Regions from separate parts of the Homo sapiens genome. Here all the other regions are reported to be linked to region 1. The links are microRNA targets in miRTarBase. Many come from high-throughput screens and were not tested one by one. Region 1 holds a microRNA gene; each other region holds the end of a gene's coding sequence.

Region 1 (3,350 bases):
GAGTGTCCCCAGTCCCCCAAGGGAAACAGGGCAGCACCTGAATTCTGGAGGTCCTATCAAGGGAGAGACTGGTCAGGCACAGTGGCTCACGCCTGTCATTCCAGCACTTTGGGAGGCTGAGGCAGTAGGATTGCTTGAATGCAGCAGTTCAAGACCAGCCTGGGCAACACAGCGAGACCCCATCTCTACAAAAAACTGCAAAAAATTAGCCAGGCATGATGGCGCACCTGTAGTCCCAGCTACTCTGGAGGCTGAGGCAGGAGGCTGAGGCTCCCGTGAGCTATGATTGAGCCACCACACTCTGGCCTGGATGACAGAGCAAGACCATGTCTCAAAAAAAGAAAAAAAAAAAGAGATCAATTTTGTCTTTGGGACAGGACATCGCACTTAGTAGGAATTTATTTGTTGGGTGGACACACAGTAGGCACTTAATGCCTATTTGCTGCGTTGACACCTAGTAGGTACTTCCAAGGCTCTTTGTTGAGTCAATAAATGTGACCTCGTGTTTTCTTCCAAGTCCAGGGTCCCAGGGGTAAGCCCAGAGGTAACCTGGGGTTGAAGACAGTTGTTTCAGGTTGAGGCCACCTGGCCAGGAGTACTGTGACGTCACCAGGCTGCGTGACGTTTCGCGCCGGCCGGTTCTCACGGGTGGGGGCTGGGAGGGGCAGAGTGAGAGATCGGGTGGGGGGGGCGGACAAAGGGCCCTCCGTGCAGCTCCTGTCGGCCCCCGCGTGCGCCCCGGCCAGCCGGCCGGTCACATCTGGAATTCATTGCAGCCGCCGCCGGAAAGGGGAGGAGAGGAGGGCGGGGCGAGCGGGGGGCAGAGGCGGCGGCTCTCCGCCCCCCCCTCTGTCCCTCGTCCCAGCCCCGGGACTTAGCCGAGCCCGGCTGGCAACCCCAGCCCCAGCCGCGGCCGCCCTGGGGACGCAGACGCCAAGGCCCCTCCGGCCAGGGCCGGGAGCCGGGCCGGCCTAGCCAGGTGAGCGCGCGTGGCGACAAGGAGGCAGAAAAGGCGGGCCTGGTCCCCTGAGGTCTCGGGATCCGAGCTGAGGGGCCCCAATCGGGGGGCTGGGGCGCGCACGCGCCGCCTGGGTTCCTGCTGCACGGAGCGGGTGGTCACAGTGCGCCCTCTCCAAGAATCCGGGCGGCCCCCACTGCCTCGGCCGCGAACCCGCAGACTGTGCTCCCCGCCTTTCTCAGCGGCAGGAAGTTGGCGCCGGGGAGAAGGCTGAATCCGAGCGCTTTCGACTGGAGTCTTTGGGAGGCAGGACGCCGTGCTCGGGGACCGGGGTCTTGGGGAGTGTGTTTGGGGGGGGGCAACACCCCTCCTGGCTGACTCCGGCTGAGCGAGGGCAAAAGGATGTGCGCGCCGTGGAGCCTCCAAGCCAAGGGGCGGCACCCACGGGGAGGGCGGTCGGACGTCGGGCTTTCTGCCTCGGTTTCCCCAAGTTGTTTGCCTCCTCCGGTCCCCCGGCGGGGGGCGTGGCTTTGTTTTGTAAGGAAAGAGAAAGTGACTGCGTGGCTCAGACGCCTCCTCTTTCAACTCCGGCTCAGGGATGGGTCGTGGGTGAAGGCGCGCGTGGCGCGGACCTCGCGTGGCCCCGAGCCGGGCGGAGCGTCGGAACTCGCCCCCTTCTCAGGCACGGGTTGACTCACCCGGGGATTTCCACCCCCTCCTCTGTCTCTGTCCTTGTCAGATGCTCCGGGCCCCACGCGCTGAGCCCACAGTCCCCCTCGTGGGGCGACACGGCCAGGCGCGGAACTCGCGGTGCAGCTGCTGCTGCGATCTGGTCCCCCACCCCCAGTCTTCCCAGAATCTCGAGGCGGGACCCCTGGCGGGACGGAGAGGAATCCTTCCAGTGCCGCTTGGAGACGTGGGGGCCCCGCGCGTGTGGCGGTCTCGGGGGCGGGGGGGAGAGGAGGCGTGGCTCCCGCGCGAGCGAGCGTGGATACCGCGCATTCCTAAACCAGATAAGGAGGCCGAGAGTGCGGGCCAGCACGGGGTCGGGTCCTGCTGCCATCTCCATGGAGACACGCTGGGCTTTGCCTGGTTGATGGTGGGCGATGGGGGCGCTGCCCGCGGACCAGAGGTGTCTCCAGGCTCCTTTGTTGCTGTTTGGGTCTGGGCTGAGCTTAGGAGTTTCCACCCTTGGGAACCCACTAGGGTCTCCTTTGTTCATTGGTTCATTCATTCATTCATTCATTTGCCCATTCCACACGTTTTCTGAGTGTTTTATTTGTGCCAGGCATCCCTGTAGGGGCTGATAACTGACTTGCTCCCTGGCCTTAGGCATTGACTGTCTAGGTGGAAGCCAGACAGAAAAGGAAAGATATCATGATAGTTTCCCATAGTGGCAAGCGCTGTGCAGATAATAAAACGAGATTCTGTGATTAGAAAAGGCTTGGAGATGGCTGCTATTGTAGACTGGGGGTCAGGGGAGTCCCCTCTGAGGAAGTGACCTTTAAATAGAAAGGTCACTTTCTATAAGGTAGGGTGGCTACCACGGGCTCCATGGGTGACCAGGGGGAACTGTAACCACAGGGCCTGCCTTTCTGAAAGATGGGGAGACAGTCATTCAAAGATTTGAGGAAAGGCCAGGCGTGGTGGCTCACGCCTGTAATCCCAGCACTTTCCTAGGCTTAGGCAGGTGAATCACCTGAAGTCAGGAGTTCCAGACCAGCCTGGCCAACATGGTGAAACCCCATCTCTACTAAAAATACAAAAATTAGCCAGGTGTGGTGGTAGGCACCTATAATCCCAGCTACTCAGGAGGCTGAGGCAGGAGAATCGCTTGAACTCAGGAGGCAGAGGTTGTGGTGAGCCGAGATCACACCACTGCACTCTAGCCTGGGCAACAGAGTGAGACTCTGTCTCAAAAAAAAAAAATTTTTTTTTTGAGAAAAAGAGTGTGCCCCAAGAAGAACAGCAGGGGTAAAGGCTTGGAGGTAGGGGTAGGGGTAGCATGGAGGAGGTTTAGTGTGGTTGGAGTGGAATGGCCCTGGGGGAAGAGTGGGAGGAGGCTTCATCGGCAGGGGCCATCCTACTTGGGCTATAGGGAGCCATGGAAGAATTTGGAGTTGGGGAGTGACATGGAGTTACAAGTTTAAAAGCTCCCCCTGGCTGCTTGGTAGAGAATGGCAGGGTAGGGGGTCCTGACAACCACAGAGAAACCAAAAGGTAGGGTGGCTACCACGGGCTCCATGGGTGACCAGGGGGAACTGTAACCACAGGGCCTGCCTTTCTGGAACTGGGAGTGGGTGGAGAGGACCTTGGAAGCCACTGAGGCTTCCTCCATCCTTCCCCTCTCCTAATCTCCAGACAAACAGTCGTCTGAGTCTATCTCTCTTCC
Region 2 (3,283 bases), not on the chromosome of region 1:
CAGACACCAAATGTCATTTCCTGCTGGTGCTGATCATCACTAGATCCAACTTTGGAGGCAAAAAGTCGTTGTTCCTGGGAGATGCTATCAATGGCCCAAATCCCCCAAACCAGCTGGCCACCAGTCTTTGGCCCTTTCATTGACACCCAAACCCATACCAGCTGCTTTTCTGTATGCAATTGTCAAAGACTGAACAGGGGTGCTCACACCATCCCCCCGATTCCACTGGACTCTTCCAATTTGAGCTCATTGTTCCTGGGAGGGGTTGAAGCTCAGAGGCACCCTCCTCTTGCCTCTGACCAACCCCCAGCCTGTGTGTCCTTTATATTTACACATTAATCTTCCCTTTTCAAGCACTGTGCTATAAATACCCTTACCACCCCCACTGGCCCTGTCCCCAGCCCTTTTCAGGATGCAGAGAAGCATCGTGACCTTCGTGTGACCTGCCCATTTGGAATCCCAGACCGCTCCCCCGCAAGAGTTCCTCCCATGATTGCTGGGGCCGCTTGCCCATTTCCCAAGCCCACACCAGGCGGAAGGGAAGAGGGTTCCTGTGTTTTTCATTTTTATACAATATGTTTACAGTTATGTTGCTTTAATCTTTTAAAGTATTTAACCTTTTAAAGGATTTTTTAGCAACAAGTCCCTTCCTCTGACTTCTCTGTGGCAGTGATGTGGGCAGAGCAGGGCTTAGGAGCTCCCTGGGATTTGCCACCCATCACAATGGTTTCGGACATATTGGAGGGGAGAGGGCCACAGCCCACAGAACTGCTGCCTGAACAGGGACCTATGAATGAAGTACCGACCGCTCCGAGATCTGTATGAGTTGGAGGCAGGCCAGTGTGAAGGTGTGGGAGGAATCCGCCCACACCCAGCTTCATACAGCACCCTGAGGACAATGTGGCTTCCCTGATTCACACCTACTGAGCCAAGGCCCCCTCTGAAGTTAGGTCAAGAGGGCCCACCCTAGCCGGGCCAACTCATTCCTTTGAGGACCTGATACTCAATGAACTGCTTACTACCAAAAAAATGCAAAGGATTCAGCAAAAAGTGCAATTTCCATTTGAGAAGTAAGATTCTCCCCAAAACATGACACCACCTTTTCATCCTTTCAGTACCTCAAAGGGAAAGGGAAATAAAAGGCATACAGCACTAACCCTCCGAACCACAGCCGGGGCTTTAAAAGTGTGGTTCACCCTTTAGAACCCTAAAAGACCCATTAACACGTCCAGTCAGTTATCGAAGTGCCAGTGAGGTGAGGGGCGTGGCAGAGTCAGGAGGGACCAGGAGGCTGGAAGAGCCCGCTCACATTCTCAACAGGACACACCTGTCCTGTTTACAGCAGGACACATTACTGTGGCAACAGCCACAGGACTCCAGGGACTTGGTTATTCCTTCATAAAACCTTGTCAACTTCATTGCCTATTGGAGGATAAACTCAAAACATCTTCAAAATATAACCTGAGCCACAATATAAAATAAAAAGAAAAAATCTTTTCATGTTAATGCCTTAAGAAGTTTACAGATTATGTACCAATAAAATAAATCCACATAAATTTGAAATTCTTGGTGGATACACACCTGAAGCAAAAAAAAAAAAATTAATCTACATTTTAAAAATCAAAGTAATTACAGCAGCAGTATAGTGAAAAGGTTTTAAAAATAATAATTACATCTTTGATACAAATTCAAACTTTGTACACCTCAATTCATAGGAATGACTGTTTTTGAGAGCTTAGTGTATATATATATATATATATATATATATATATATATATATATATATATACACAGTAGATTCCGATATGTGTCACGGCAGAGAGAGACGAAAGCCAGTGGACTTTGGGGAAGGAGGGATTAATCTGACACTGAATTCACGCTGAAGTGTTCACAGATTGCCACGCTTCTGAACATACACACACACATACAGACACAGACACATAAAATGCCAACCTGAGTAAAACGTTACTAAAAACCTAGAACATCATGAATCACTAATTCACATATTGCACCTTTAAATAATCCTTCATACCAAATACAGACATGAGAAAAAGGATAATACAGGGACAAGAAAAGGATTTCTGCCACTGTAGGATTCCTCTGCTTCTCCCATTCCCACCCACAGAAATTCTCAAGGTGATATTTGAGTCGCCATTCTCACCCAACCAATGGGTTGAAAATGTTGCCAACAGAAGAGTCTTTGGAGAAAACTGGGAGGGAAAAGGGAAGAAAAAATGGAGCACAAATGTACAGGGGGCAGGGGAAGCGGAGTCGGGGCAAAGAGGCCTCCCCTGATCAAATGAGAACAGAAATGTTACTGAGGAAGCAAACCTCTGATGCTAAGCTACTGTTTAAATATTCCGTATATTCCAATTATGAGATTCAGTACAAAAATATAGATCTCTACTGAGTTTTGCCTGTGGAAGCATAATTCAGAAAAGGCACATGTTCAAATAGAAAACCCATTCGGAAGAGGTGCCACGTACCCCTCCCTGCGCAATCATCATCCACAATTAGGTATTTTCCATCGGCTAGATTCCAAGACACAGTAGGTAAAAATAGACCTCTGATACTTAAAATATATTCAACCCAACACAATCCTGGCTTTAGCATGTGAATCATATAAAATAGTCTTTTTTAAAAAAGAAATTGTTTTGGAAAAAAAAATCATAGCTCCCTTTTCCTGGTTTTCCACAATCCTCAAGGGGGAAAAAAAAAAAAAGTGACCTCATCCCATTGGTCATCAGGAATGCAGATGATTTGCTCCCCACCCATCCACAGCCCCCGACAGCCCCAATTTGTCATCTATCATATGCAGCTTCATGCCCTCAAAATTAGTTCTCACAAAACAGAACAAAGAATTAAGATATTAGACATATAAAAACATGTCGACATCGGGGCATGTGCCTTCGCTGTGGGTGCGACGGTCTGGTTCACTCCAGAAAGGTTATTCCTTTGGAATTAGGCGATGTAACCATTGGTCTTTCCAAATGTGGTCACGGGCGCAAGGTTTTCATAGATTGTCATTGCAGTTGTGTTCTGGTAGATAAGATCTACTTTTGAGTCTTTCTGGGATCTGACAATATCCAAAACACACTGATTGAGGAAAACATACTGGTCCTGATAGAAAAACGAAAGAGAGAGACAGAAAATGAACATGGGTCCCAGAAATTAGCACCCAAAATTATTTTCAAACAGGTCATTCCCCCGCCCAACTCCCAAACCCCATCCACCCAACAGCAAACGGTTCAAGCGAACATGTTTCAAGAGGTAACAACATTGC
Region 3 (3,000 bases), not on the chromosome of region 1:
CAGTATTATATATGAACAAGGGTGAGAACAAATTTAGGAATGGTTAGTAGACCACTGTGGCTGACCCACATTACACGTGGGGAGAAGTGGTAGTAGAGGTAGGTAAGGCAGAGTGGGCCCAGAGCTCCATGGCTTTAATGTCATGCTAAGGAATTTAACATTAATAACATGAACAATGGGAATCTGTGGAATTTTAGGCCAGAAATAACTGTTCGATATTTACTGTCTGCTGTATGTTAAGCACTGTAATGATCCTATCTGTGCTTCAGAAAGATAACCTATGAATAAATAGAGGGGCTAGATTGAAGAGAGGAAAAAGAGTAGAGGTAAGGTATCAGGTAGCTATTACCTCATCAGTCTAGCTCAGAAAGGCCCTGAAGCTAGCAGAGGGAACAAAGATATGGGAATGGACTTGAAACAATTAAAATTGTACAGAACTTAGAAACTAGCTGGATGTCTGTATTGTGATGGGGGTGACACAAAGCAACTGCTGGTTTTCCCAGGTTAGATAACTAAGTAGCTGGTTGCCAGTTATGGGAGCTTAAAAAAATAAGATGAACCACCAAATTAGGGGTATCTCTGTGTATGTATGTGAGCACATGAAAGTGTGTACGATTGTGAAGAGTGAAAAAGGAGCTGTTTTACGTGTTGATTTTTCTGTAGAACATACCATTGTGGCTTCAGTGTATGAACTATTTGTGAAGTTGGTCTGAAACTCATTAGTCAGCACTGAAGACAGCATAGGAGCCATCAGTCCTTCACCCTCCCCTGGATCTCTTCCTGAGATAGGAAAAGTCACGTTTTATAGGCTTTGGTTTAATTAGCATGCACAATCCATCTGCCAAAGTTGGTAGGCATCTTTTAAGGAAAATAACTTCCTCATGTGGCTCCTCCTTCCTTTTGCTCTGGAAGCATCAGGACTGTTTCAGTTTTGCAGGCCTTCCGCATAGCTGTTTATATCACATGCCACAATTCAAAGCAAATGGAAAAAAGGACTGGTGTGACTGAAACCCTGAAATTCAAGCGCGTGCTAAGTGAATTCAAGATCTTTTCTGTATTCCTTTTTCAAGTAACTCCAAGCGTCAGAGGGGCTAATGAATATGGCAAATCAGGTAAATATTTTACTGATGAGAATCTCCAAAGTGTAAAGTGGCTACCTCTTACCTGTGTCTAACATAGAAATAGCGGAACTAGTTGGCAAACACACAAGATGAACAGCTTGAAGAGACAGGAGCTACGGCTGATCCCTACATCTTTCCCTCCCAAATATCTACTAAAGGCAATGTTGGTTAGCCACAAACTCTCGGCATTTGAGACCGTTGATTTTTAATATTTTCTTAAAAAAATACAAAGGAAATTAACTCTGTAGGTCAATACAACTCAGGGAAAGAGGGAAAAATGGAATTTCAGAGCAAAGGTTGTTTAGGTTATCACATTCCCACACTCCTAATACCCACAAAACAAGAATTTCACTCCATGACACAGAGGAACATTGAATGGTAGCTCAGAAATGTTGATAGCTGAGGTACTGAAACTAACAAAAGGATTTTGGTTGTCCTTGATTATTCTGTCCTGTGATGAATAAAATCTACACTAAAGGACAGGTAAGGAAAACTTATAGCAGAAAAAAGACTAGATGTACCAAACACAGCAGTACAAACCACTCCTTGGCAGACATGTGCTTCTAAAAGAATGGGGCAGTAATCAGGTAGCTGAACTACTAGGCTACTGTCACTCCCAGCCCATCCCCAAATAAATAGTGTGGAAGTGTAATAGTGTAGTAGTATTTGATCCAACAAAGAAAGGCTTTCACCCCCATTCAAGGCAAACATTGCCATGGCTAGATGAGCCCTGGCAGGTAATAAGATGACTGTAAAATCACAGGTTCTTCTAGTTTATCCCCAGTTATACTGAACTCCCACATTGATGTCATCTTCTCTCATCCCAACATTTGTTCACTCTTTTATGCTGTCTCCAGTGCGAAAGACCTCGGGGAAATAAAAAGATCCTTCAAATAATATACCCTTCTCAGTCTTCCAGGTTATGTAATACTTCAGTGCTGTTCTAGGTTCACTCACAATCAAATTCAGTTTAATTCACTTAATTCTAACTTCAATTCTGATATACAAATCCTGACCTCCAAAAGAAGTGTCAGATGAGTCTCTCTCTCCCTTGTCCCCAAAGTTTTGTGGGGCTCTCCCTTTTGTTTCCCTCTAGAATGGAACTGTGTTGCCCCTAGCTACCTGTATATGAGAAAATGTAGTTGTTCCTGGAAAAAAAAAAAAAGACTTGGATTTTACCAAGTTTACTTAAACTGGTATCTTTCCAATCATCTAGGCTGGATATTGCCCATATCTAGTAGGCTATACTCACCTTAGTTCTTTGCAACATATGAGGCACAACATACATATAGTACACCAAGCATGTGGTAAGTTAGAAATGACAGGAAAGTGCTCCCCAAAGCAGTGGGAGAGGCAATGTGGTCTCTCACATCCATTCAATGTGCATTCTTTTTCCTGGAATATCTGTTACCCACCCTTCTCAGGAACAAGAACCAGGACGACGGGGAGTATGTGTCAAATAAGTACAATCATCACTGCACTGGTGCCTGTAATCACCCGGTGCACATAGTGAGAAACAGACATTCTGGAAAGGATTTTTGATTCTCCCACTAACTGTCCACTGGACTGGTCACTAGCTCTGGATGGTGCTCCAACAATGGTCACTTCTCGCGGAGAACACAAACACCAGCATCACAGCGCTGGGTTCCCATGGATGTCACGACTTCCCAGCTGTCGATGATAGGGTCATAACATTCAATGCTACTTAGCAGGGAATTACCATCATATCTGAGTGGGAAAGAAGCAAAAGAAAGAAATGAGTCAGCTGCGTGCAGTGGCACGTGCCTGTAATCCCAACTATGCAGGAGGCTGAGGTAAGAGGATTGCTTAAGCCCAGGAGGGAATTTGAGACCAGCCTGGGCAACATGGTGAGACCCTG

What was found. Region 1 holds the annotated microRNA hsa-miR-4322 (CUGUGGGCUCAGCGCGUGGGG, at 1,708-1,728, opposite strand). A microRNA usually pairs through its seed, bases 2 to 8, with sites in the 3' UTR of a target mRNA and lowers its output. Matches are read on the target gene's strand: a 7mer-m8 pairs with bases 2 to 8, a 7mer-A1 pairs with bases 2 to 7 and ends in A, and an 8mer does both.
Region 2: miRTarBase lists PTPRJ as a target of hsa-miR-4322. Seed matches in the 3' UTR shown: 7mer-m8 at 674-680.
Region 3: the mRNA of KLHL12 is a reported target of hsa-miR-4322. Seed matches in the 3' UTR shown: 7mer-A1 at 2,187-2,193.

The regions. Positions count from the first base shown.
Region 1 is chr19:10,228,833-10,232,182 of GRCh38, reverse strand. MIR4322 (microRNA 4322) reads right to left here and starts at 1,770; the gene lies at 1,698-1,770. It overlaps S1PR2 (sphingosine-1-phosphate receptor 2), which reads left to right and starts at 852. Exons shown (of 2, transcript NM_004230.4): 1 at 852-979. RefSeq lists enhancers at 298-347, 1,494-2,208, 2,148-2,227, 2,308-2,357 and silencers at 548-1,207, 1,918-1,967.
Region 2 is chr11:48,167,041-48,170,323 of GRCh38, reverse strand. PTPRJ (protein tyrosine phosphatase receptor type J) reads right to left here. Exons shown (of 25, transcript NM_002843.4): 25 at 1-3,120. The coding sequence ends at 2,962. Among named protein-coding and RNA genes, the nearest start is that of OR4B1, 48 kb to the left of the region's middle.
Region 3 is chr1:202,889,811-202,892,810 of GRCh38, forward strand. KLHL12 (kelch like family member 12) reads right to left here. Exons shown (of 12, transcript NM_021633.4): 12 at 1,310-2,849. The coding sequence ends at 2,723. Among named protein-coding and RNA genes, the nearest start is that of RABIF, 2.2 kb to the left of the region's middle.